Homo sapiens: one gene and its partners. The protein of the gene in region 1 interacts with the protein of each later gene in a biochemical or structural test. Each region holds a gene or a part of one and is shown in the gene's direction. Other genes may lie near its edges. The genes, in order: KHDRBS1, ABI2, RUSC2, LCK, NCK2, SASH1 and ZBTB7A.

The links.
Region 2: the proteins of KHDRBS1 (region 1) and ABI2 interact in a test that uses a peptide from one of them, tested with the Homo sapiens proteins (one study listed by BioGRID).
Region 3: the proteins of KHDRBS1 (region 1) and RUSC2 interact in a test that uses a peptide from one of them, tested with the Homo sapiens proteins (one study listed by BioGRID).
Region 4: the proteins of KHDRBS1 (region 1) and LCK interact in a test that uses a peptide from one of them, tested with the Homo sapiens proteins (one study listed by BioGRID).
Region 5: the proteins of KHDRBS1 (region 1) and NCK2 interact in a test that uses a peptide from one of them, tested with the Homo sapiens proteins (one study listed by BioGRID).
Region 6: the proteins of KHDRBS1 (region 1) and SASH1 interact in a test that uses a peptide from one of them, tested with the Homo sapiens proteins (one study listed by BioGRID).
Region 7: the proteins of KHDRBS1 (region 1) and ZBTB7A form a complex in vitro, tested with the Homo sapiens proteins (one study listed by BioGRID).

What each region holds. Positions count from the first base shown.
Region 1 is NC_000001.11:32,034,368-32,037,867, forward strand, and holds part of KHDRBS1 (KH domain-containing, RNA-binding, signal transduction-associated protein 1), read left to right. Parts: intron 1-2,542; coding exon 2,543-2,676; intron 2,677-3,467; coding exon 3,468-3,500. UniProt on the Homo sapiens protein: Recruited and tyrosine phosphorylated by several receptor systems, for example the T-cell, leptin and insulin receptors. Once phosphorylated, functions as an adapter protein in signal transduction cascades by binding to SH2 and SH3 domain-containing proteins.
Region 2 is NC_000002.12:203,373,394-203,376,893, forward strand, and holds part of ABI2 (abl interactor 2), read left to right. Parts: intron 1-2,538; exon of another isoform or gene 2,539-2,622; coding exon of another isoform or gene 2,623-2,739; intron 2,740-3,500. UniProt on the Homo sapiens protein: Regulator of actin cytoskeleton dynamics underlying cell motility and adhesion. Functions as a component of the WAVE complex, which activates actin nucleating machinery Arp2/3 to drive lamellipodia formation.
Region 3 is NC_000009.12:35,496,611-35,500,110, forward strand, and holds part of RUSC2 (AP-4 complex accessory subunit RUSC2), read left to right. Parts: intron 1-3,500. UniProt on the Homo sapiens protein: Associates with the adapter-like complex 4 (AP-4) and may therefore play a role in vesicular trafficking of proteins at the trans-Golgi network.
Region 4 is NC_000001.11:32,278,765-32,282,264, forward strand, and holds part of LCK (tyrosine-protein kinase Lck), read left to right. Parts: intron 1-906; coding exon 907-983; intron 984-1,076; coding exon 1,077-1,230; intron 1,231-1,314; coding exon 1,315-1,446; intron 1,447-3,500. UniProt on the Homo sapiens protein: Non-receptor tyrosine-protein kinase that plays an essential role in the selection and maturation of developing T-cells in the thymus and in the function of mature T-cells. Plays a key role in T-cell antigen receptor (TCR)-linked signal transduction pathways.
Region 5 is NC_000002.12:105,852,912-105,856,411, forward strand, and holds part of NCK2 (cytoplasmic protein NCK2), read left to right. Parts: intron 1-2,136; 5' UTR 2,137-2,152; coding exon 2,153-2,378; intron 2,379-3,500. UniProt on the Homo sapiens protein: Adapter protein which associates with tyrosine-phosphorylated growth factor receptors or their cellular substrates. Maintains low levels of EIF2S1 phosphorylation by promoting its dephosphorylation by PP1.
Region 6 is NC_000006.12:148,545,338-148,548,837, forward strand, and holds part of SASH1 (SAM and SH3 domain-containing protein 1), read left to right. Parts: intron 1-677; coding exon 678-809; intron 810-2,957; coding exon 2,958-3,221; 3' UTR 3,222-3,500. UniProt on the Homo sapiens protein: Is a positive regulator of NF-kappa-B signaling downstream of TLR4 activation. It acts as a scaffold molecule to assemble a molecular complex that includes TRAF6, MAP3K7, CHUK and IKBKB, thereby facilitating NF-kappa-B signaling activation.
Region 7 is NC_000019.10:4,049,900-4,053,399, reverse strand, and holds part of ZBTB7A (zinc finger and BTB domain-containing protein 7A), read left to right. Parts: intron 1-3,500. UniProt on the Homo sapiens protein: Transcription factor that represses the transcription of a wide range of genes involved in cell proliferation and differentiation.

The sequences.
Region 1 (3,500 bases):
GCCTGACCAACATGGAGAAACCCTGTCTATTAAAAATACAAAATTAGCCGGGCGTGGTGGCACATGCCTGTAATCCCAGCTACTAGGGAGGCTGAGGCGGGAGAATCACTTGAACCCAGGAGGCAGAGGTTGCGGTAAGCTGAGATTGCACCATTGGACTCCAGCCTGGGCAACAAGAGTGAAACTCCATCTCCAAAAAAAATAAATAAATAAGTTTTTAGGCATTGTGTACCCATAATGCTGAACTCCAAGGATTCCAACAGTCTCAAATGTCTTAGCAGCTGCTTTGCTTTCAAGTACCTCATCTTCATTAGAATGTTCAACATGAGGCAGGGCGCGGTGGCTCACACCTGTAATCCCAGCATTTTGGAAGGCCGAGGCGGGTGGATCACGAGGTCAGGAGATCAAGGCCATCCTGGCTAACATGGTGAAACCCCGTCTCTACTAAAAATTCAAAAAAAAAATTAGCTGGGCGTGGTGGCAGGCGCCTGTAGTCCCAGCTAATCGGGAGGCTGGGGCAGGAGAATGGTATGAACCCGGGAGGCGGAGCTTGCAGTGAGCCGAGATTGCGCCACTGCACTCTGGCCTGGGTGACAGAGTGAGGCTCTGTCTCAAAAAAAAAAAAAAAAGAATGTTCAACATGAAACAGACCATTTAACATATCCTAGAGAAAAACACAGCTGGTTAATAATCTTAAGGAAATTCTTTTTACTCTTTTTGGGGTGTTCTATTGATCACCCAAGCCATTCAATTTCCAAAGGACTGCAGAGGGAATGCCCATCTCCTCTCTTCATTGTTAGTCTCCCTCATATTCCTCAGAAGGGTTAGGTTTATGAGGCTTGCTTGTAAGTGAATCTTTTGAAAAAGATGCTTGCCGGGGAGATGTGGGTTTCCTCAGTGTTGATGTGGCAGTTGGAGGAGTCTGAGCAATGGTCTGGCATTGGTTACTTGATTCTCCAAGGTGTGAGTCTCAAGCAGCGGTAATGTGTAAGGTAGGAGGAGCTAGAGAGTTGAGGGGGGCATCAAAGACTAGCATCATCTATTGAAGCTGTATACGCCTGGGATATATAAAAATGCATGAAGTATTAAGACTGAATGGCTCTCAATAGGAAGTGTGAAAAGATTTGCCAGTGGCATTTGATTTTTCCCTCTTGTGGAGGAAAGAAAAGTGAGGCTATTTTTGCATCTGTGACCAGAGCCCTCCATTTTCCACTTAGAACAATTAACTATACCAGCAATGCTTCACAGTGCCGTAGGAAGAGCACTGGACTATGTATGTCTGTCTATCTGTGTCTTCCTGAACAGGTTATCATTTCACTTTTCTGAGCTTCAGGTTTCTTGTTCGTCCCAAACATTTCTTAAGTATCTGTCAGATGTCTGATACTATGCTTGGGTGTAAAGTTACAAAAATGGCTCCTAAAGAGCTTACAGTTTAGTGACAGACAATTCTAAAATTATGTGGTAAGTGCTTGGGTATAGGGAATTATGTGGTACTTTGAGAAAAGAGGAGTTGTAGGGGTGGCATCAAGAGAAAGTTTTTCAAGAGACACTTATTTAGGCAAGTCTTGTAAGGATGAATTAAGAATCCCTCAGGTGGACAAAAAAGACAGTATAAGGACAAAAAAGCCTGTTGATCCAACACCTAGATTTTGAGACAGGTAATTCTGAATTCACATCTAGAGTCTGCCATTTATTAGCTCTGTGTTCTTAAGCTGGTTGATGTATACTCCTTGAGTCTGTTTTCTTAACTGTAAAATGTGGAGATCTGCCTACTTATTTCAGGGTCATTTTGAAGATTTTTTTTTTTTTTTTTTTTTTTTTTGAGATGGAGTCTCTCTCTTTCGCCCAGGCCGGACTGCAGTGGCGCTATCTTGGCTCACTGCAAGCTCCGCCTCCCGGGTTCTCGCCATTCTCCTGCCTCAGCCTTCCGAGTAGCTGGGACTACAGGTGCCTGCCGCGCCCGGCTAATTTTTTTGTATTTTTAGTAGAGATAGCGTTTCACCGTGTTAGCCAGGGTGGTCTCGATCTCCTGACCTCGTGATCTGCCCGCCTCGGCCTCCCAAAGTGCTGGGATTACAGGCGTGAGCCACTGCACCCGGCCCTCATTTTGAAGATTAAACTGAAAAATCTATATAAAGCTTATTATATAGAGCCAAGTGCATACAGCTCCATTAATGGTAGTGGCTTTTATTATTCCAGGAAAAGGAAACTATTTGCAAAGAATGGATATGTAAGAGTATGCCAGGCTCTGAACTACAAGTTGTTCAGTCTGGCTTGTGAGTAGGTTATATATAGAGAGAGAATGGAAGTGATCCGGAGAGCTAGGCAGAGACCACATTATGAATAATGAGGGGTCTACCATCAAGACTTTTCTCAAAGAGGTGACAGATAGGGTGCCATTTGACTTCAGAGAAGGAATGACCTGAGACCTCATCTGGGCTCTCAAGAGCTCTTCTTAGAATTCAAGTCTCCCGTGGACCAGATGATTTCTCAGTAGAAAGTGTAGATACCACACAATACTCCTTGTATCTTTCGTTCCCAGGATATGATGGATGATATCTGTCAGGAGCAATTTCTAGAGCTGTCCTACTTGAATGGAGTACCTGAACCCTCTCGTGGACGTGGGGTGCCAGTGAGAGGCCGGGGAGCTGCACCTCCTCCACCACCTGTTCCCAGGTAAAAATAATGGAGACACCCAGAAATAGGATGTGAATTTGACTACTAGTGTCATCTCTTTTAGTGGTGCTCTTATGTCTAGCTTAGGAAGGGTCTCAGGATTTGTATGTTGCATAAAGAACAGAATTCTACAACCATACTCTCACACCTGTAATCCCAGCACTTTAGGAGGCTAAGGCAGGCGGATCAACTGACATTTGGAGTTTGAGACCAGCCTGGCCAACATGGTGAAACCCTGTCTCTACTAAAAATACAAAAATTATCCAGGTGTGGTGGCATACACCACACTACTCAGGAGGCTGGGGCAAGAGAATTGCTTGAACCCAGGAGACGGAAGTTGCAGTGAGCCGAGATCATGCCACTGCACTTCAGCCTGGGAGATAGAGCAAGACTCCATTTCAAAAAAAAAAAAAAATAGAGTTCTAGATCTTGGGCACTTTGACCATAGCCAAGTGCTGCAGTCTAGCTGAAACTTTTGGTCTTCTAATTTTGGACAGTCTTAGCATTTGTTAATGGTCTGACTTTAAAATTCTACCTTTTGTGACTGACCTTTATAGAGTATTCAGACTCTCCAGACCTACCCAAGGCAGTGCAGTGATGAATTGGTCCTCTATAGGACCTGGGGGATCTTGCAGTGTGGGTCCTTTACCCTGTACATTCCTCTGTGCTTTAATAATAGCCTAGTTAAGGCTTCATAAAATCTGCCTAATTCCAGAATTTGTAAACAAATCAGAACATAAAAGTGGCCTGTTTATAAAAAGCTCCATTTAAGATAAACTTTCATTTTGTAGGGGCCGTGGTGTTGGACCACCTCGGGGGGCTTT
Region 2 (3,500 bases), on another chromosome or scaffold:
GTGAGCCAAGATGGCAGCAGTACAGTCCAGCTTCTGCTCGGCATCAGAGGGAGACCGTGGAAAGAGAGGGAGAGGGAGACCATGGGCCGTGGGGAGAGGGAGAGGGAGAGGGAGCGGGAGAGGGAGAGGGAGACTAAACTAAAATTTTTCTAAGCGAGGCCCATCTTTTTTCTTTGCTAGTAAAATTAGTCAGTACTTATCCATGTTCAAGTTTGTCATGGCTTAGAAAAAAAGATTAAGCAAGGTCAAAAGGCAACATAAAGAACTTAAGAAAGTAGTGCTCTTCCCACCTTCCCAAGGGCTGAGTAGGACTTACTGGGCCAGGTGTTAAATTAGTTAGCAGGTAACAATTAAAGGAGCTGGAAAATAATTATCATAAAATAATATAAAATTGGAAGTAATTCTTCTCAAGAGCTAGGTATTGAAAGGCAGTGGCCTTAAGAACTCAACAAGTAGGGTAGCTTTTACTGTCTAAAAACTTTAGGCTGGGTGTGGTGGCTCATGCCTGTAGTCCCAGCACTTTGGGAGGCTGAGGCAGGCGGATCCCTTGAGGTCAGGAGTTTGAGACCAGCCTAGCCAACATGGCAAAATTCCATCTCTCCAAAAAATGCAAAAATTAGCCAGGTGTGGTGGTGCACACTTGTAGTCCCAGCTACTCAGGAGGCTGAGGCGGGAGTATCACTTGAGCCCAGGTGGTCGAGGCTGCAGTGAGCCATGTTCATGCCACTGGATTCAAGCATGGGCAACAGAGTGAGACACTGTCTCAACAACCCAAAACACAAAAACTTTATATAGATAGCCTTGCTTAAGAATTTCTAATTTTGGCCAGGCTCCGTGGCTCACGCCTGTAATCCCAGCACTTTGAGAGGCTAAGGGTGGCCGGATCACCTGAGGTCAGGAGTTTGAGACCAGCCTGGCCAACATAGTGAAACCCTGTCGCTACTAAAAATACAAAAATTAGCTGGGTGTGGTAGTGGGCACCTGTAATCCCAGCTACTCTGGAGGCTGAGGTAGGAGAATTGCTTGAACCTGGGAGCGGAGGTTGCAGTGAGCTGAGATCGTGCCACTGCATTCCAGCCTGGGTGGCAAAGCGAGACTCTGTCTCAAAAAAAAAAAAAAAAAAAAAGGAATTTCCAATTTTAATTAAGGAGATACACTGAAGGTTATCAATACGTAATTATGCATAGAAAGTAGACTTTTTATACTTCCCAATTAATTTCCTATGTAGTTTTTATATCACTTTATATAAAAAAACTGAAAATTACTCTGTTAGTAACTAATTTGTTTTATGAATGATACATAATTTGAAGCATAATTGTAATTTAAATGTTTATTTGAAACATTAGCTTACTAATAAAAAAAATTGAGACATATTTAAAAACACCCAATTTAGTTGGGTTAATCCACTGTAACTGTTTGATTGCAGATGTTTTCCCACACTGATGGGCAGCTAACTGAGGTAGTGCTATCCAGTACAGTCAACTTTCAATTATCTGTGGTAATGGGAAATGACAATGCATGGATAATCCTAAAACAAAATATTTTATACAGTACCTTCCTGTCATCTGCTGTGGCCTGAGCATGTGCTTGGGTTCATGAGGGAGATGTGGGAGTGGGGCTCAGGCTTGCAAAGGAGCTGGGAGTCAGTATGATTATCTCAAGGCCATAAGAGGTATCCTTAAGGAACCTGGGTTTGGCACTGTGTGGCTGAAGTGTCATGGGGAAAGCCTGCAGCATGCAAGATCAGCTTGGCAATATCAGTGAGAAGGATGGGGAAGCTAATTAATAAGGAACTGTGGGAGAATAGTTGTTTATTAAGTCCTATACAATTGCAGTGATATATCTTGGTGTGTTTTTTGGTTAATGGGATCTGTAGCAAACAATAATTATATTAATTGTGTATTTGAATTAGTTTTGGTCATCTTTGATTGCTAGCAGAACACATTTTTTACTTGCCACAGGTGAGTGCTGTTATTGAGGTCTCTTCTAAATAAGTAGGTTTATTGTCATATAACTAGTAACTTAAAAAACCCAGAATAAATTTGAAATACTTTTCTTACTTTTAAAATTCATCCTAAATATCAGTGTTGAACTTGTACTTCCAAAATTTAACTTAATGAAATTTAACATTGTAATGTCAAAGAATATCATGAGGGCAAATGCCATAATTACTGATACTGTGAATTTGATGTAGGAAAAATATAGTAGCCATATTTTATTTAAGAATATGTTACAGGAGCTTTCCTAAATTTCTTTTACAACTGACAATTGTCTACGAATTTATGAATGTTAAAGCTGCATGATAGATGTGAGGAGGGAGTGTTTATTATTCTATCTAATTTGAATATGCTTATTTTCTACAAGTGAAAGCTATAAAAAAATTGAAGCAGATGATTGCTGAAAACCTTAGAATCTTCTGGACCAACCTGAGAATCTTCTGCTTGTTTATGAAATAGATTTAGTGCTCTCTGTCAAATTATTCAAACTCCAAATAGAACCGTAGCCATTTTCTAAAGGCATGTTTTCTTCTGCCCACAGGCAATACTGCAGTTCAACCCCGTGTGGTAGTATGATGGCAAGAATGCAAATTATACCGTTGTTAGATTACCTTTATTATTATAGATGTTTTTTAAAAGTTATTTACTTAAAATATCTATACTTAGGCAAATTAGAGGCGTTGATCTTGAGTCGACTTTTGTGACCAAATTTGGAAACAATTGCAGTTTGAGATTGAATGAGGTAAGGGACCAGCTAATTAGTCCTTCCTCTATAGATCTTTGGTTCTCAACCAGGGAAGTTTTGCCCCCAAGGGGACATTTGGCAATGTTAGACATTTTTGGTTGTCACATCTCATGGTGGGGGAGTGCTACAGTTATCTACCTGGATGCTTTTCTATATTCTGCAATCCTCAAGACAGCAGCCTTCACCCCTGCCCACAACAAAGAATTATCAAGCCCAAAATGTCAATAGTGCCACTGTTGAGTTACCCTGCCCCTAGTGTTTCTAAGATGTAGGCATTCTTTGAAGTAGACAATTAAAAACATCATATAGCCAAACTAAATTATTTTGACTTTCTGTATACTTATGCTGTTTAAAAAACATGCCTTCAGTTTTTACTGAGATTTGATATAAAAAGCAACAACAAATATATTTTTAAAGAATTTAATCCTGGGAAACATTTCACTTTCCTGATGAATTGATATATTTCCTCGTAACTCATTATGTTTCTATTTTGCCTTCTCTCCCTGGAGGCTTAGTGCCAATTTTTTTGCTCTATTATAACAATGACCCTTTATTTTAGGCTTATTGTTATCTTTCTATTTACTGTATTGGTCTTCCCTTTTTTTTTTTTTTTTTTTACTGTTATGGTCTATGGGTTTGGGCTAAGTGTGTGTTTGTGTGTATATGAAGAGAACATGTGGGTAATATGTAAATGTCCCCAATCCCTAGACCAAGTCACATCTCTATAAGATCAAATGAACAGATTTCTAATTTATATT
Region 3 (3,500 bases), on another chromosome or scaffold:
AGAGTTGTTATGAATGTAACATGTAAATTTACTATCACTGATGATTCCTCTGAAGAATTTCATGCAACCACCAGAAGGTGCAAGATCCTAGAGATCTACATATCTTAGGCATTTTCCAGGAGTACTCCTTCAACTGTCGCCCTGCACCTGATTAAGCTGGATATACTATAGTAAAACAATATGTAACAGATCCATGCACTACATGGTGTTATTGTGGAAATGGCCCTGACACATGGCCACTCACTTGACAGCTGTACAAAAGACAGTTATGTTTTTGCCTAGAGGACGCTAAGGTTAAAATTGTCTTTATTGCTCATCTTCCCCACTGATACTGAGCACACCTGGCATAGCTGAGATTAAACTATGAGTATGTATACTTGAATCTGGCATTTAATCCTCACAAAACGAATAGTGACTACACAGTCAAGCATCTTTAATGGGCAAGTACTTGAGCATCCAACCCATGTAAAGTTTGACGATCTGCACCTCTCCTGTCCTTCCCCTTAGAGAGTGAGTACAAGTTTCTAGATGACAGGTTCGGTGTAGACTGTTCAGATGCATCTGGCCAAGTTGTCATGATTTCTCATTGAGGGAAGAGAGATACGACACAGCAGTACATTGTGGATATGTTGAACCCATTAATTGATAGTGCAGCCATCACTGAGAAGCAACATTCAGTCTTTTCTTGCAGATCTTTACTGTACAACCCCTTACTGATATGACCCCATTTGTTGAGCTGTTGTGGATGAAAAGAACTTAATTGGGTTAGTAAACTGGAGAACTGTTTTGTTTTGGTGTTGCAAACCCATTTGGGTAGAATTTGTTCCATGGGTCAACAACTCTGTATCCCCTGGCCATGTATAAGAACATCACAATTATGTATTACCAGCCATATATCCGAATACTATATGCTACTTCTCCTGAAGTCGGCAGCAGATTGTATATCCTAATAAACACATCTGTGGGAAGCTATCTTAGGACAACAAGATCTTCATTATACCCCAAGAAGATCTCCAGACCTAGGGTGATTAAAACATTAACTGCAGACATTAAAGACATTGATATTATTAATGATATGCACACTCATGTCCACTTAACTGACCCTCTTGCATTGGCAGTGGGCCCATTAGTAGATGTAGAGGCTATTAAACATGAGATCATTGGGCATGCAGATTCAGTCTCCTCCTTTCACTCCTTTGGTGCAGGATTTATCACTTCTCTGTCCCTGTGGAACATTGTGAAAGATATGTATCTACATCTGTCACACTTAGACGGAACTTTGTTTCTCCTATCTTTTGTTGTAACTGCCATAGGAAAATTATACATGTACTACAGGACAGTAGAACAACTTTGCCTATATTCTCAGCTAATTAAATAAAAAAGCTGGTTTTTATGTGTTGATTTTGTACCCTGCATCATTGCTGACACTAAAAAATGCTTAGGGTATTTGCAACTAATCATTATTAGTTCTAATGTTTTTGTGGCATCTTTAGGGTGTTCTCCATACAAGATCGTGTAACCTTGGAACAGAGATAATTTTAGTTTTGGTTTTTTTTTTTTCCCAATTTGTATGCCTTTTATTTCTTTTTCTTACCTAATTACTCAGGTAGGAATTCCAGGACTGTTAAATAGAAATGGCAAAAGAATGCCAGGTTTGGTGGCTCATGCCTGTAATCTCAGCACTTTGGGAGGCTGAGGCAGGCAGATCACGTGAGATCAGGAGTTTGAGACCAGCCCGGCCAAAATGGCGAAACCCTGTCTCTATTAAAAATACAAAAATTAGTCAGGCATCTTGGCGCCTGCCTGTAATCCCAGCTACTTGGGTAGCTGAGGCAGGAGAATTGCTTGACCCCGGGAGGCAGAGGTTGCAGTGAGCCAAGATCATGCCACTGAGCTGAGATCATGCCACTGCACTCAAGCCTGGGAGACAGAGCAAGACTCTGTCTCAAAAAAAGAAAGAAAAAGAGGCCAGGCGCGGTGGCTCACGCCTGTGATCCCAGCTCTTTAGGAGGCCGAGGTGGGTGGATCACGAGGTCAGGAGATCAAGACCATCCTGGCCAACATGGTGAAACCCCATGTCTACTAAAATTCAAAAAAAAAATTAGCCGGGTGTGGTGGTGCGTGCCTGTAGTCCCAGCTACTCAGGAGGCTAAGGCAGGGGAATCACTTGAACCCAGGAGGCAGAGGTTGCAGTGAGCCGAGATCGCCTGGCGACAGAGTGAGACTACATCTCAAAAAAAAAAAAACAAAAAAAGAAAAAAGAAATGGCAAAAGTGAACCATTTCTCTTAACACACAATCCTTATGGGATTGTTGATTTGGTATGCAAGTCCTTAATAGACACTGAAAACAACATTATTTTAGCCTGGTATATTATTAATGTTAACAGTAGTGAGGCCAGGCGTGGCGGCTTATGCCTGTAATCCCAGCACTTTGGGAGGCTGAGGCAGGCAGATCACTTGAGGCCAGGAGTTCAAGACCAGCCTGGGCAACATGGTAAAAGCCCAGCTCTACTAAAAATACAAAAATTAGCCAAGCGTGGTGGCATGCACATGTAATCCCAGCTACTTGGGAGGCTGAGGCACAGGAATTGCTTGAACCCAGGAGGCAGAGGCTGTAGTGAGTTGAGATTGTGTCACTGTGCTCCAGCCTGGGCGACAGAGTGAAACTCTCAAAAACAAAAACAAAAAACAAAATAGTAGTGAGTCATCAAGAAAAGTTAAATTATAGCCTACATAATACATTTTAAAAAGTTCTGCCAAAACACTTAAAGTTTTTAAAAAATTAATTTTGATACTTTAGGAAGAAACCCTCTGTTCCTTGGAATTGTTGGTTTAATAAAAGTCTTTTATCTTCAAGAAAATGAGATGGTAAACTCTGAGGTATGTGTTGTATTTTTGGCTTCTTGTGTGAGTTCCTGCAGACAAGGACAATAGACTGATAACTGGGTGGAAAGAAAAATAGGGCCAGCCAACTTCTGGCTAAAGTTTAATTATCTTAGGATCAAAAGTCTATACTTAACTTGTTTATCTTAGGATCCAAAAAAATCTGTATTTAATTTATCTGTTTTTATACTTTGTGCTTCCTTTCTTTTCCTGTATAATTCTTTTTAAAAAAAGAAAATGCACCCTTGTATTTAGTGTACTTAGGGAAAATGGACATTTATTTTTATCCACGCCCAGGCAAAAGAAAAAGAGCAAAGTTCTCCTAAAGGCAGCATAGATAGGATTTAGATGAACCCAAGGTAAAAAGCAAAAACTGCAGGGGAGAAAGTTGGGAACCTACTACTAGTCCCGTTCATCCTCAAGTTGTTTCTCTTCCAAAATGTTCTTTACTTGTTTTTTGAAAGTTGTTTATTTCTGTTTAAAGATACAGTCAAACTTTGTTAAAGTTGGCTGTATTCTATTTATTTAAAGTTATAGCCAAACAGAACAGCTTATTTTTCTAGAGTTCCGGATAGCTAGAGTTTTTCTATAAGACTAATGATTTCCTTTTAAACAT
Region 4 (3,500 bases), 240 kb from region 1:
ATATCTATGTCTATGTATTTGCTGTGTGTAGGTGAGGTCTTTGTCTTTGGTAACTAGTTCAGCACTCAAAGTGGGGACACTCAGGTTGCTGTCATCCTTTTACAGGGTTTTAATCTCTTGGGAAGGGCCATTGGTCACTCACTGCATCCTAGCAACTCCCATCCATGTCCAGCTGCCCTCCACTATTAGAGAGGTGGTCCCTCAGACCCCCAGACCCCCTCTTTCTTATTCCATCCAATATATTCAGCACATAGTTATTGTTTCTTACTCTCGGCTGGGCACCAGGAACATGGATGGATGAAACAAGGTTCCTGTTGTCAGGGAAACCTGATTTTAGTTACAGCTACTGGGGAAACCAGAGTTTGTGCCATGGGAAAGTTCCAGCATGCCCATGGGAGTGTAGATGATGATCCAGTTTATTATGCCTGGTAGGATCTAGAGAGGCTTCCTAGTGGGGCAGTCTAGCAGGGCCACGAAAGAAAAGTAGAATTTTTTTTAGCAGGCAGAGATGAAACAAAGAGGCTTTGGGGTGAGAGCCTAGTGGTCTGAGTGCAGGATCTCAAAATTGCTAAACTGTTTGAAGTCAAAGGCAGAGTGGGGGAAAGAGAAGAAGCTACCAGTGTGGACCATGCCAAGCTTAGGATACTAGTTGAGGATTCTAGGTTCTACCTTATTGGTGATGAAAAACCTACAGATCCCTCCCAGCATGCTCTACCCTAGCCCCTCTGCAAAAAAACCTTTACATATCCTGGGCATCCTTACCCTGAACACACACTCCTCCATTCTCACTCTTCAATCTTCCTTTTCACATGTCAGACACACTTCTAGACTCCCAGTTGGAGGAGAAAGGTCTGGGGGCCTCCCCCTGGGGCAACTTGGGCCAGCAACTCTTGCTTCTGCCCACAGGGAGTCTAGTGGATTTTCTCAAGACCCCTTCAGGCATCAAGTTGACCATCAACAAACTCCTGGACATGGCAGCCCAAGTAAGGAGACTGGGGAGGGGGGCTGGGCAAGGGAACAGACCAGTGACGTGAAGACATCTGGCTCAGGACCGCTGATCTGTGTTTGGCCTGCAGATTGCAGAAGGCATGGCATTCATTGAAGAGCGGAATTATATTCATCGTGACCTTCGGGCTGCCAACATTCTGGTGTCTGACACCCTGAGCTGCAAGATTGCAGACTTTGGCCTAGCACGCCTCATTGAGGACAACGAGTACACAGCCAGGGAGGGTACGTGTGAGATTTAAGGGTGGTCTGGGCCCTGCAGGGTCTGGCCAAGCAGACCCAGGTGACCTCACTCTGCCTCCTCCTTAGGGGCCAAGTTTCCCATTAAGTGGACAGCGCCAGAAGCCATTAACTACGGGACATTCACCATCAAGTCAGATGTGTGGTCTTTTGGGATCCTGCTGACGGAAATTGTCACCCACGGCCGCATCCCTTACCCAGGTTAGAGCCAAGGGCAGGAACTGAAAGGGTGATGGGAAGGGCAAGTCCATGTCTTCCCATTCAATTCTTTCCAGTCTCAGAATCTGAAACTTTGTAGCTGCATCTCCTCTATCTTCTCAGGGGTATGAGTCCAACGTCCCCAGGCAGATGCCACATCTCCCAGGGCTGGCTTCCATCTCCGTATCTCTCTTTAATAACCCCAGCTCTTTTCTTTTTCTCTTTTTTTCTTTTTCTTTTTTTTTTTTTTTTTTTTTTTTTTTTTTGAGACGGAGTCTTGCTCTGTCTCCCAGGCTGGGGTGCAGTGGCGCCATCTTGGATCACTGCAACCTCTGCCTCCTGGGTTCAAGTGATTCTCCTGCCTCAGCCTCCCAAATAGCTAGGATTACAGGTACGTGCCACCATGCGCAGCTAATTTTTTGTATTTTTAGTAGAGACAGGGTTTCACCATGTTAGCCAGGATGGCCTCAATCTCCTGACCTCGTGATTGGCCTGCCTCGGCCTCCCAGTGTTGGGATTACAGGCGTGAGCCACCACACCCGGCCCCAGCTCTTTTCTTTAGTTCTGGCCCAGGCAGCCTGGTATGGTAGAAGAAGATCTAGCTCAGGAACAAGAGGCCTACCTTTTATCAGCAGATCTGCCACTGTTGCTAACTTTCTGTTTGGCTTTGTTCAGATCATTACTGTAACTAGTGAAGCTAGTCACTTCACTTCTCTAAGCCTCAGTTTCCTGATACTAAAAATAAGAGACTAGGCCAGGTACAGTGGCTTATGCCTATAATCTCAGAACTTTGGGAGACCAAGGTGGGAGGACTGCTTGAGCCCAGGAGTTCGAGACCAGCCTGGGAAACTGGTCGAAACCCCATCTCTACAAAAACAAAAGTTAGCCAGGTTTGGTGGCATGTGCCTCTAGTCCCAGCTACTCAGAAGGCTGAGGTGGGAGGATCACCTGAGCCAGGGAGGCAGAGGTTGCAGTGAGCCAAGACCATGCCATAACACTCCAGCCTAGGGCAATAGACCAAGACCCTGTCTCAAAACAAGAAAAAGAGAGACTCCATCTCTACAAAAAAAAAAAAACAAACAAACAAAAAAAACATTTAAAAATTAGCTGGGCATGGTGGCACACACCCGTAGTTTCAGCTATTTGGGAGGCTGAGGTGGGAGGATCATTTGAGCCCAGGAGGTTGAGGGTGCAGTGAGCCATGATTGTTCTATTGCACTCCAGCCTGAGCAACAGAGAGAGAATTTGTCTCAAAAAAAAAAAAAAAGAAAAAGAAAAAGAAAAAAGAAAAAATGAGAGACCATTTGTGAAAGAGCCTGACTCATAGTAGGTTGTCAGTATACACTGACTCCTCCCACCATCTCCTGGACAAAGCCCTTTACCCCTGAATTCAGCCAAGACAGGGATGGAATTTTTGAAAGGAACTTGCTAAGAAACTCTGGGGAAAGGAAATGGAGCATAAAGACAGGAGTAGGGGGGTCATGCGGCACAGTGGCTAGATTTGTAGAAGCTTCCCATATCCCCAGAGCAAGGTGAACAGACCTTTGCTCCAAGGAAGGTAAAGACACCTTGGAAGGCCGGATGCAGTGGCTCACACCTGTAATACCAGCACTTTGGGAGGCCGAGGCGGGTGGATCACAAGGTCAGGTGTTCGAGACCAGCCTGACCAACATGGTGAAACCCCGTCTCTACTAAAAAAAATATATATAAAAATTATCTGGGCATGGTGGCACGCGCCTGTAACCCTAGATACTCAGGAGGCTGAGGCAGGAGAATTGCTTGAACCCAGGAGGCAGAGGTTGCAGTGAGCTGAGATCATGCCACCGCACTCCAGCCTGGGTGACAAAGTGAGACTCTGTTTCAAAACAAAAACAAAAACAACCACCTTGGAAACAGGTGAAAAGCTGAGGGGCTTCCCTGCCCTGGGCTTGCCCCAAACCAGCGTCCAGGGGTAGTGCTGGAGCTGGAAATACAGAAATATTCTCCAGTTATCCTGCCAGGGGTCCTCACTGCTCCTTCCCGGTTCCCACAGAGGCAAACCCATAGGGAATGTATCT
Region 5 (3,500 bases), on another chromosome or scaffold:
ATGCAGAGGCTTTCCTCCTTCCCAAAAGGTTTGTTATCTTTAAATTTGGAAGTTAATTCATGAAAGAAACGTGTATTATTTATAAAAAAATTTTTTTAGCATCTAGTAGAAAATATGTTATTTAAAAATGGTATTTATGCTTCCATGGAGTCAATGTGCATAGGTCCCCTGTAATCCTAAAGTCATCCCTATACAATAATGAGAACTTCTCTGTCAGGGAGGAAGGGGATTTTAGTCCTGAGTGTTTTCATCATTCATTTCTCCCTAGTTTGGAGAAATGTCTAGTTAGTTTAAGGACTGAATATTGAATTTTTCTGCTTAAAGAATATTGGTTCATCTTCTACCTAAGAAGTAGAGAGTTGCTAAAATAGTTGATTATTTATTTTATTTATTCAGCCACACTTTTGCTATTTATTACTTCCAAAATTGACTTTACTGGATATATAATACACGCATCTATTTATTGTTGTTTTGATAAACTTTTCATTTTGGAAAAATGTTATGTTCACTTTTGATGTTGCACATTTTATAGATTTTAACAAATGTATAATGACAGGTGTCCGCCATTATAGTATTGAGCAGAGTAGTTTCACAGCCTTAAAAATCCTGTGCTTCACCCTTGCATCCCTCCCTTCCCTCTTGCCCCAGGCAAGCACTTATTTTCTTACTGTCTCCATAGATTTGTCTTTTCCAGTATGTCATACCGTTTTAAAGAAAAAACTTATTCATGACATTTGTTGAAGAACAGTAAGGCAGATTTTATTCAGAGGGACTACTACAGTAGGGTTTTGCAGTCAAGAAAGAGATTGGGTTTGACTCCTAATATTAAGACAACAAGGAAGAGTGGGCATTTATAGGCAAGGAGCAAAATAAGGGAGTTGGTGGGTGGAAAATTACTAAGAGGAAACATCAGGGGTGGAGCGTGGGGATTCTGGCTAAACTGACCGAACAGGATTCTTCTGAAGGCAGGACAGGGTGATCAGCTGTCACCTGGGGGATGGTAGAGGATGAGGAACCTGATCAGATGTTGAGAGTGGAGGATTCCAGCTAGAGCACCTTAGCAGGAGAGTCTTGCAAAAATTGGGCAATGCAGAGATGGACACGGAAGTGCAAAAGTTGAGGCCTTAAAGGGAAGAAGATTCAAAGGAATTTGGCTGAAGTTTGGTTAAGGATAAACTGTCAGAATCACACAGTGTGTAGCCTTTTCAGATTGGCTTCTTTCACCTAGCAATATGCGTTTAAGGTTCCGCTATGTCTTTTCATGGCTTGATAGCTCATTTCTTTTTGGTACTGAATAATATTTCATTGTCTGGATATACCACAGTTTATGTATCTATAAACTGTGTCCTACTAAAGGACATTTTGCTTGCTTCCAAATTTGAGCAATTATGAATAAAGCTGCTACAGACGTCTCTGCACAGGTTTTTGTGTGAATGAAAGTTTTGGGGAATAATTTTATATTTATAAAAAAGTTCCCAGTATAGTACAGAACTTTCCCTTATACCCTTTACCTGGTTTCTCATTGTGTTAACATCTTATGTGAATGCAGTAACATCTTACTGGTGTGTTGTCCAAACTAAGAGATTGACAATTATTTATTGTTATTATTATTCTTAGACTTTATTTTGATTTCACCAGTATTTCCATTAATTTTCTTTTTCTGTTTCATGATCCAATCCAGGATACCACCTTGTTATTAGTACAATGTTAATTTTAATTTATAGGAGTAGTTTGGTTATGTTGACTTATTAAATATGTTTATAAGACACAGCATATCCTGAGAAAATGAGTGTCAACCTAACAGTTATCAGGAGGCAGTGTTACTTAATGAAATGGACTCATTTAATTATAATGTTATTTAGAATTTTTTTCAAGTTTGTTTTTGTTAGAGGGTCAGATTTCCCCATGTACAGCAAACAGTAACATAAGATTTGTTTTATAAGGTTGCTGTTTCTAAACCAAATACTAAAGCTTGTTGAAAGAAGGTCATTTTAAAGTTGAGCATTTCAAGACCCAGGAGAAAACTGGTTGCAGAGTTGTAATAAAAGCTGTCAGTGCCTAATTTTTCAAGTTGGTGCAAAGGATGAAGTGTCCGGGTAGTTCTCTAATGAGCATCTCCAAATGTTTTGCTGGCAGAAGGACTCCATGAAAGATGACAGAAGAAGTTATTGTGATAGCCAAGTGGGACTACACCGCCCAGCAGGACCAGGAGCTGGACATCAAGAAGAACGAGCGGCTGTGGTTGCTGGACGACTCCAAGACGTGGTGGCGGGTGAGGAACGCGGCCAACAGGACGGGCTATGTACCGTCCAACTACGTGGAGCGGAAGAACAGCCTGAAGAAGGGCTCCCTCGTGAAGAACCTGAAGGACACACTAGGTGAGTGTTTCACCCTCGAGAGAGGAAGCCTTGTGCATTTCAAGGGACACTGTTCGTCTTTCTAGTTAGTTTGCTGTTTCAAAAAAAAAAAAGTCTGTTTTAAAAGTTAATATCTTCCTAGTTGTCTTTTTTAATAATCTAAGAATTAAGAGATGAAGATGGAGAAAGAGGATGTTTTTCATTTCCTGGAGATTCTGGAGTTTGGGGTCCTGTGTATGGAGACACTTTGTGTGCTTGGGACCCCTGCACAGGTATCTCCTTGTATCAAAACGTTAGAGGAGCCTGACTTGGAATTCTCACCTCTAAGTCTACCCAGCTCTGCCAGTGTCGTGACATGAAGTTCTTTCTCTCTTATACAATCCTGTCCATTTGGCCTACGTGCCTAGAGCAGGGGACAGCCAAAGCACTTTTTCCCTCTCTGAAATGGATGCTACATCACACCACAGTCCTGGGTGCCGTTAGCTAAGAGGGCAGCTTTGTGACATCAGAGGCCGCTCCATGGTGGGGGCCTAGTTCAGCCATACTGTTGTCCCCATGTGCCTCTTTTTTTTTTTTTTTTTTTTGAGACGGAGTCTCACACTCTTGCCCAGGCTGGAGTGCAGTGGCACGATCTTGCCTCACTGCAAGCTCCACCTCCTGGGTTCACACCATTCTCCTGCCTCAGCCTCCCGAGTAGCTGGGACTACAGGCACCCACCACCACATCCGGCTAATTTTTTGTATTTTTAGTAGAGATGGGGTTTCACTGTGTTAGCCAGGATGATCTCGATCTCTTGACCTTGTGATCCGCCCACCTTGGCCTCCCAAAGTGCTGGGATTACAGGCGTGAGCCACCGTGCCCGGCTCCCCATGTGCCTCTTGTTTTCCCAGGTGTTGTCAGGTTATGGGCAGTGCCCTCCTGGAGTTACACAAAGTTAACAGTATCCAGTCTTGCCTTTACATGCACACGGAACTGACTTACAGTATTTACTGCCTCAGATTACCTGAGAAAATAATTGCGAGGACTTTTTTGAAGAATGACTCATCTGAGCTGACATTTAAAACGTTGTTACCTTCTTATGAGTATAATGTTGTCTGTATCCAAGACTGCAGGTTATCACTTAAGGGTTTGCTAGTGAAATGA
Region 6 (3,500 bases), on another chromosome or scaffold:
CTTTATTATAAAATTCTCATGACAATGAATGCCTTAGAATCAGATCCTCCTCCACCTCTCTGACCCTCCTTGATATTTCCTGAGTGAATGTCTTTAAATGAAAGGTAGTGAGAAAGACCATACAGTAAATGCTGGCCTAGTGAGCTGGTGGTATCACTTGTAGCAGATAAAGTGCAAACAGTTGAATATCTGTAAAGCAGAAGTTAGCCCTTCTCTCCTGCAGTTTAGAAGACTCTCTTCAGTAACATTAGAGGAGTTGTATTTTGCAAAATGATCTGATTGAGGCGAAGGCATTGTCCTGAAAAATGTGGAATAATTGTGTTCTGCCTTAACTATGCTTCAGAACATTTTCCTAGAGCTCATCAGTACTTTAAGATAAAGATGTAAAAGTATTCCCTCTAAAGCATTCATCCTGACCAATAAAGAAAATATATTCATTTCAAATTCAAACTTTTGGGTTGGGTGTGGTGGCTTACGCCTGGAATCCCAACACTTTGGGAGGCCAAGGCGAGAAGATCGCTTGAGCCCAGGAGTTTGAGGCTGCAGTGAGCCATGATCACACCACTGCACTCCAGTCTAAGTGACAGTGAGACCCTACGTTATATGTGGTGTATCTTAGGGAAAGAAAAACAAAATCCTTATGACTCTTGATGTCATATTCCTGTTCTCCCTGGCAGCATGGCCGCTGTGGGATTCCTGAAGCCCTGGTGCAGAGATACGCAGAGGACTTGGATCAGCCCGAGCGGGACGTCGCCGCCAACATGGACCAGATCCGGGTGAAGCAGCTTCGGAAGCAGCACCGCATGGCGGTGAGCAGCCCACAGTTCTCCAGCTTCCTGAGGCACATTTAGTGATCACGCTTAGTGATGACCATACTAACAACTGCCAAGTAGGCAAGGGCTTGCGTAGCTATGGAAAGGAGACAGCTGGGGAGAAAGTAATATGTGGTCAGCCTAGAAATGTTTAAAAATACACTTTCAGAAAGAAAAAAAAAATGAAAATTATCCGTAATCCCAACACTGTGAAAAACTTTTTAAAGATCCGTCTAGTGCTGGGCGTGATAGTGCACACCTGTAATCCTAGTTACTTGGGAGGCAGAAGCAGGAGGATTGCTTGAGCCCAGAATTTTGATGCCGGCCTGGGCAACATAGTGAGACCCCATCTCTTAAGAAATAAAATAAAATCCGTCTGAATGACACAGTTTCAGTTAGAAGCATAACTTCCAAAGATCTATTGTTCAACATGGTGACTACAGTTAATAACAATGTATACTTGAAAATTGCTAGGACAGCAGATCTTAAGTGTTCTCACCACAAAATATAGTATATGAGGTAATGCATATGTCAAATAGCTTGATTTAGCCATTCCACAATGTGTACATTTATCAACACACCACGTTTTACACCATAAATACACACAATTTTTACTTGTCCATTAAAACTCTGTCTAGTCATTTCTCTGCACATGCGTAATGTATGCGTAAATGTATAGTACCGAAACCTGATTGTTGGCTATTATCAGATCATGAATCTGTTTCCCTGTTACTTAAAAAAAAAAAAATTGATATCATCAATACAGTAGTCTCCCCCTATCCATGAGGGATTATGGTCCAAGACCTCCAAGTGGATCTCTTGAAAGCTTGCTGAGTACCAAACCCTGTATATATTATACACAAATTTCTTTTTCCTTCACAATTTCATGGATAGAAGATTCGTTTTCACTGTAGGTCTTAGGAACCTCAGCATACAATTTTTTTTCTTTTCTTATTAAGTCAAGAACTCTCACCTTTTTACTTAAAGGAAGCACTTAAGGGCTTCTCTTTGCCACGTGCGAATGGCCAGCATCGTTACTCTTGCACTTGGGGGCCATTGTAAGGTCAAATAAGAGTGACTTGAATGCAAGTACTGCATTACCGCAACAGTTGATCTGATGACTACGGGCTACTAAGTGACTGCGGGGCTGGTGGTGTAGGCAGCGTGGATTTGTTAGACAAAGGGATGATTGTCAGGTGGGACAGAGCTGGGTGGTGTGAGATTTCTTCAGACTACTCAGAATGGCATGCAATATAAGACTTATGAATTGTTTATTTCTGGAAATTCCCATTTAATATTTTCAGGCTGTAGAAAGCAAAACCATGGATAAGCAGGGGGGTGGCTATTGTATTTCAAAGTATTCTAGTAGGTCAGTGTACTCTAGTAGTGAGTCTCATAGTTAAAACATTTAGATTTTTCTAACCTTTTATTTTAAATAATGTAATGAAGAACATCCTTGTTAATAAATCTTTGTAGACTTTAAAGGTTAATTTCTGAGTAGATATTCCTGGAAGATGGTTTGCTTCATCAAAATTGTATAAAATCCCAAAGATTTTCATACTCGTTAGCAAATCACCTTTCTGAAAGGTGCAGGCCCTTTATATACCCAGTAGTCAAGGTTAAATGTCCACTTCCCTGTTCCAGCCAACCCTTGATATTATTGTATTTTAAATTCTTCATAACTTGTATTGACTAAACATGTAATTTTCTGGTTGTTAACATAGATTCAAAATACAGTGGAAAGTCTCCTTTATAAAAACCCTACCCACTGAATGCTACATTTCACACGATCACCCAGATTTGTCCCTTCAGACTACCTTAGGGCTCTTTGTCAAGAGCATATCCACAGTGAAACAAAATAGCAGAATATGTAAATGCTTATAGTTTGAAGACTCGGACACATAAATGGGATTTGACCTCATTCCAACACCTTCGAGAACCTTGTGGAACTCTTCCTTAAAGATTTGTTTCATCTTAGAGAAGAATTTTTCCTGCTAGTCTTGATCTCTGACACTCATTGCATTGTCGCTTTCTGATAATAGTCTAGCAATGCAGTATTTCAGTGCTGTTCCTTTTAGACATACGCGAAGTAGTCCTCGATGACACATGGAGCGTTTCTATCATATTCTTTCTTAATTTATCCAGATTCCAAGTGGTGGACTCACGGAAATCTGCCGAAAGCCCGTCTCTCCTGGGTGCATTTCGTCTGTGTCAGATTGGCTCATTTCCATCGGTCTGCCCATGTACGCCGGCACCCTCTCCACCGCGGGCTTCAGCACACTGAGCCAAGTGCCTTCTCTGTCTCACACTTGCCTTCAGGAGGCCGGCATCACAGAGGAGAGACACATAAGAAAGCTCCTATCTGCAGCCAGACTCTTCAAACTGCCGCCAGGCCCTGAGGCCATGTAGCCAGGCCCGGAATGGGCCTCTCTGGACAAGAGCCACCCTTTCACTGTGCATATGATGCTGATGCAATTCCTCCATCATCTCTGGACGTGCAGACCAGATCCAGAAGAAAGGCCTGGCGTGTGGCCAAACAGCGTGAAACCTTGGCACAGGACTGAGGATCCTCTCCTCCAGAAAAGCCCCCTCGAGGAAATAAATTAGTGCGGTTCTCTTTGACCCCCAAAGACAAGACAAGCACTTATTTTTATTTTCAGAAGACAAAAGAACCAAGATGCCAACTGG
Region 7 (3,500 bases), on another chromosome or scaffold:
CACCCACAGACACACATATATGCACACACACGCAAACAGACACACCCCACCTCTTGGGCCCAAAGCCAACGAACGCTTCCCTGACCCACGTGGCTGTTAAGAACAGCCTAGACCAGGCCCTGCCCTTGTGGGTGGACATCCCGGTGGGTGACAGCACAGGCCAGACATAAGATGACAGCCACATCATATGCAAAGCGTGCCGGACAGGGTTGAGCTGCGGGAGGTGGGCGGGAAGGCACAGTCGTTCTTCCTTCCTGGAGGGCTGGTTCTTCTCTTCTGCACTTTTGGATTTTTTTCTTTTTCTGCTTTGGGAGAGGGTGACAGGCCCTCAGGCTTAGGGAGGGACAGCCCAGGCCGTGGAGCGGCTTCTGAGTTTCCCGTGAGCCTGGGTCATTTGCTTCAATCAGCCAACATTTATGAAGCGTCTGCTGGTGCCAGGCCTGTTCTAGGCGCCGGGGACAGGCCTTGCCGGAACCTGAAGGAGGGGAGGAGCAGCTGTGGGAAAGGGCGTTCCAGGCAGAGGGAACAGCCAGTGCAGAGGCCCTGAGGCCAGCTCAGCTTGAGAGATCACTGTGCCCCCCTGGGAGCCACAGGACTTGGTCCCTAAACAGCAGGAGTTCAAGGCCAGGCCCGGGCAGTTTGCAATTCGGTCTCAGGAGTCCAGAGGTGGCTGGCTGGGCCTCGTAGATCCGGGGCGGGCTGTAGCGGTGGGGGCAGGGGGCTGGCAGGCAGGGACCTGGCCAGGCTGGGTGACTCAGCACCACCCCCTGCCCCCCGCCCGCCCTGGGGTTCCCCCAGCCACGCCCACCGAGGCTGAAGAAAGAGGCCATTGTCCCAGCTTCCCAACCCCACCCCGTGGGGACAGGAACTGGGACTGACCCCTCCCCAGCACCCCGGCCCCCTCCCCAGCAGGCCAGGAGAGGAAGGTGCGGCCTGGACTCCGGCGCCCAGGAGTGCCAGGCAGGGGGCAAAGGGCACTTTGGGAGGCAGGCAGTGTAGCTGGTGGTTTGTCCCTCCTTGGTGAGGTTGGGGTACTGGAGGTCTTGGGGGGCTCCTCTTCCTCCAGGCAGGGGTCACTGTGGGTTCGTCTCTGAGCTCAGGAAGAGCAGCTTGGTGGGGTGCAGAGAACTGGGGTCTGCAGAGGGGACCAGGCTGAGCGAAGGTGGTGACCCCCACCCTGCCTCCCTGGCCGCAGGCCACAGGCCCGGTTTCATTCTGACTCGGGCACTGCTGGCTATCCCACCCGACCCGGGGCTGATCCCCTCAGTCAGAGAAACTGAGGCTTAGAGAGGGACAATTGTGGAGACCTCTTCCTCCCACCCCAATTTAGACCCACCTGCTTCCTCTTTTCCCCCACCCCGTGCTCTGGTCCCCCCTCCCCAGGACACCAGCACCTCCACCCTCCAAAAGCCTGGGAGCCCGAGGCCCCTCTGAGTCACAGCAGGGCGTTGAGTAAGTGGGGCCTGTGGTGGCCGGGGCTATAATTACCCAGGCTGGGGCTCGGGGTGATGAAACTAGGGATACCTCCGCCCCCACCCCGCCTCTGCGTGGCCCTCTGGCCTGCTGTGCAGCTCCAGGCAAGTCCCTTCCTCTCTCTGGGCCTCCCAGGCTCATCTGGGGAGTCTCTGCACGGTTCTAGAAAAACCTAGTGGCTGCCATCCCCTCTGTGACCCCGGCCCTGTGCCAGATCTGGGCAAGGCAGCCCGGAGACCTTGCCGTGGGCTTTGCAGAAGGTGATCAGTAAACCAGAGGCCTGGAGGCTGGTAACAGACCTGGTTAGGCCAGGGTTCTGTTAGCAAGTTACCACGTTCTGTTGGCTTCAGTGGGGCAGCAAGGCTAGAGATAAGGTAGGGGTCTGGTTGCCAAGGGCCAGGCCTTGACCCTCAGGGCAACAGAGCCAAGGAGGGGTTAAAGTTAGGGACACCAGCTCTGTAGCTGGTGCCAGAGGGAGGGACTTAGGGCTGGAGGAACCCAGAGGGGAGCCAGGTCTTTGGGAATTAGGAAAGGTAGAGGGGCATTCAAGGTAGGGCTTTGAGGGATGAGTAGGAGTTTGCCAGTCCCCACACTAAAGAAGTCTTCAGTCTATTGAGTGTGAGAAGGAAGAAACCCGAGGTGGCTCAGATGTGGGGCACAACAGGCAGCAGCAAGGAGTAGGTCAGGTTCTAGCCAGGGCTCTTGAGACCCAGGGCTCCCTCCTGCCCTCCGGATCCCAGGAAGGAGTACACTTTATTACTATAGATTGGCATCACTCAATGGGAATAGGCAAGACACCTACTTTTTTTTTTTTTTTTTTTTTTTTTTTTGAGACGAGTCTTGCTCTGTCGCCCAGGCTGGAGTGCAGTGGCACGATCTCAGCTCACTGCAACCTCCACCTCCCAGGTTCAAGCGATTCTCCTGCCTCAGCTTCCCAAGTAGCTGGGATTATAGGCGCCCACCACCATGCCGGCTAATTTTTGTATTTTTAGTAGAGACGGGGTTTCACCACGTTGGCCAGGCTGGTCTCGAACTCCTGACCTCAGGTGATCTGCCCGCCTTAGCCTCCCAAAGCGCTGGGGTTACAGGTGTGAGCCACCATGCCCGGCCAGCAAGCCACTTACATATTTTTACATTTTCTGACAGCCCCGTTCAAAAAAAGTCAAAGAGAGTTGGTGAAAGTGACTTGAAACATTTTACCTAACCCAGTAGATGCATTTCCATGTGTAGTCAATGTGCACGATCCTCATTGAGCCATTTTACATCACCTTTTGCATATCAAGTCTTCAAAAGCTGGGGTACCTTTTGCACTTCCAGCGCACATCAGTTCAGAGTGGCCACATTCCAAGGGTTCAGGAGCCACCTAGGCCACAGGCACCCCACTGATATGGTGACCGGCTTTGTAGGCTAGAGGCTCCAGGCTAAGCTGGGTCCACGCTGCCCCCATGGGGCGAGACAGGCAGGGAGGGGCCCTCAAGTCACACCCAACCCCTGCCTTCTCGGGGCTCACAATCCAATCAGGGAGACAGAGGAGAAACAAGGAAATCAACAGAAACAAGAGAGACCGGCCGGGCGCGGTGGCTCACGCCTGTAATCCCAGCACTTTGGGAGGCCGAGGCAGGCGGATCACTTGAGGTCAGGAGTTCAAGACCAGCCCAGCCAACATGGTGAAAACCCTGTCTCCATTAAAAATACAAAAATCAGCCAGGTGTGGTGGCGCACGCCTGTAATCCCAGCGTTTGGGGAGGCCGAGGCGGGTGGATCACCTGAGGTCAGGAGTCCGAGACCAGCCCGGCCAACATGGTGAAACCCCGTCTCTACTAAAAATACAAAAATGAGCCAGGTGTGGTGGCAGAGGGCCTGTAATCCCAGCTACTTGGGAGGCTGAGGCAGAAGAATTGCTTGAACCCGGGAGACGGAAGTTGCAGTGAGCGGAGACCACACCACTGCGCTCAAGCCTGGAAGATAGAGCGAGACTCGGTCTCAGAAAAAAAAACAATAGAAGAGTCAGGTGGTGATGACAGGAG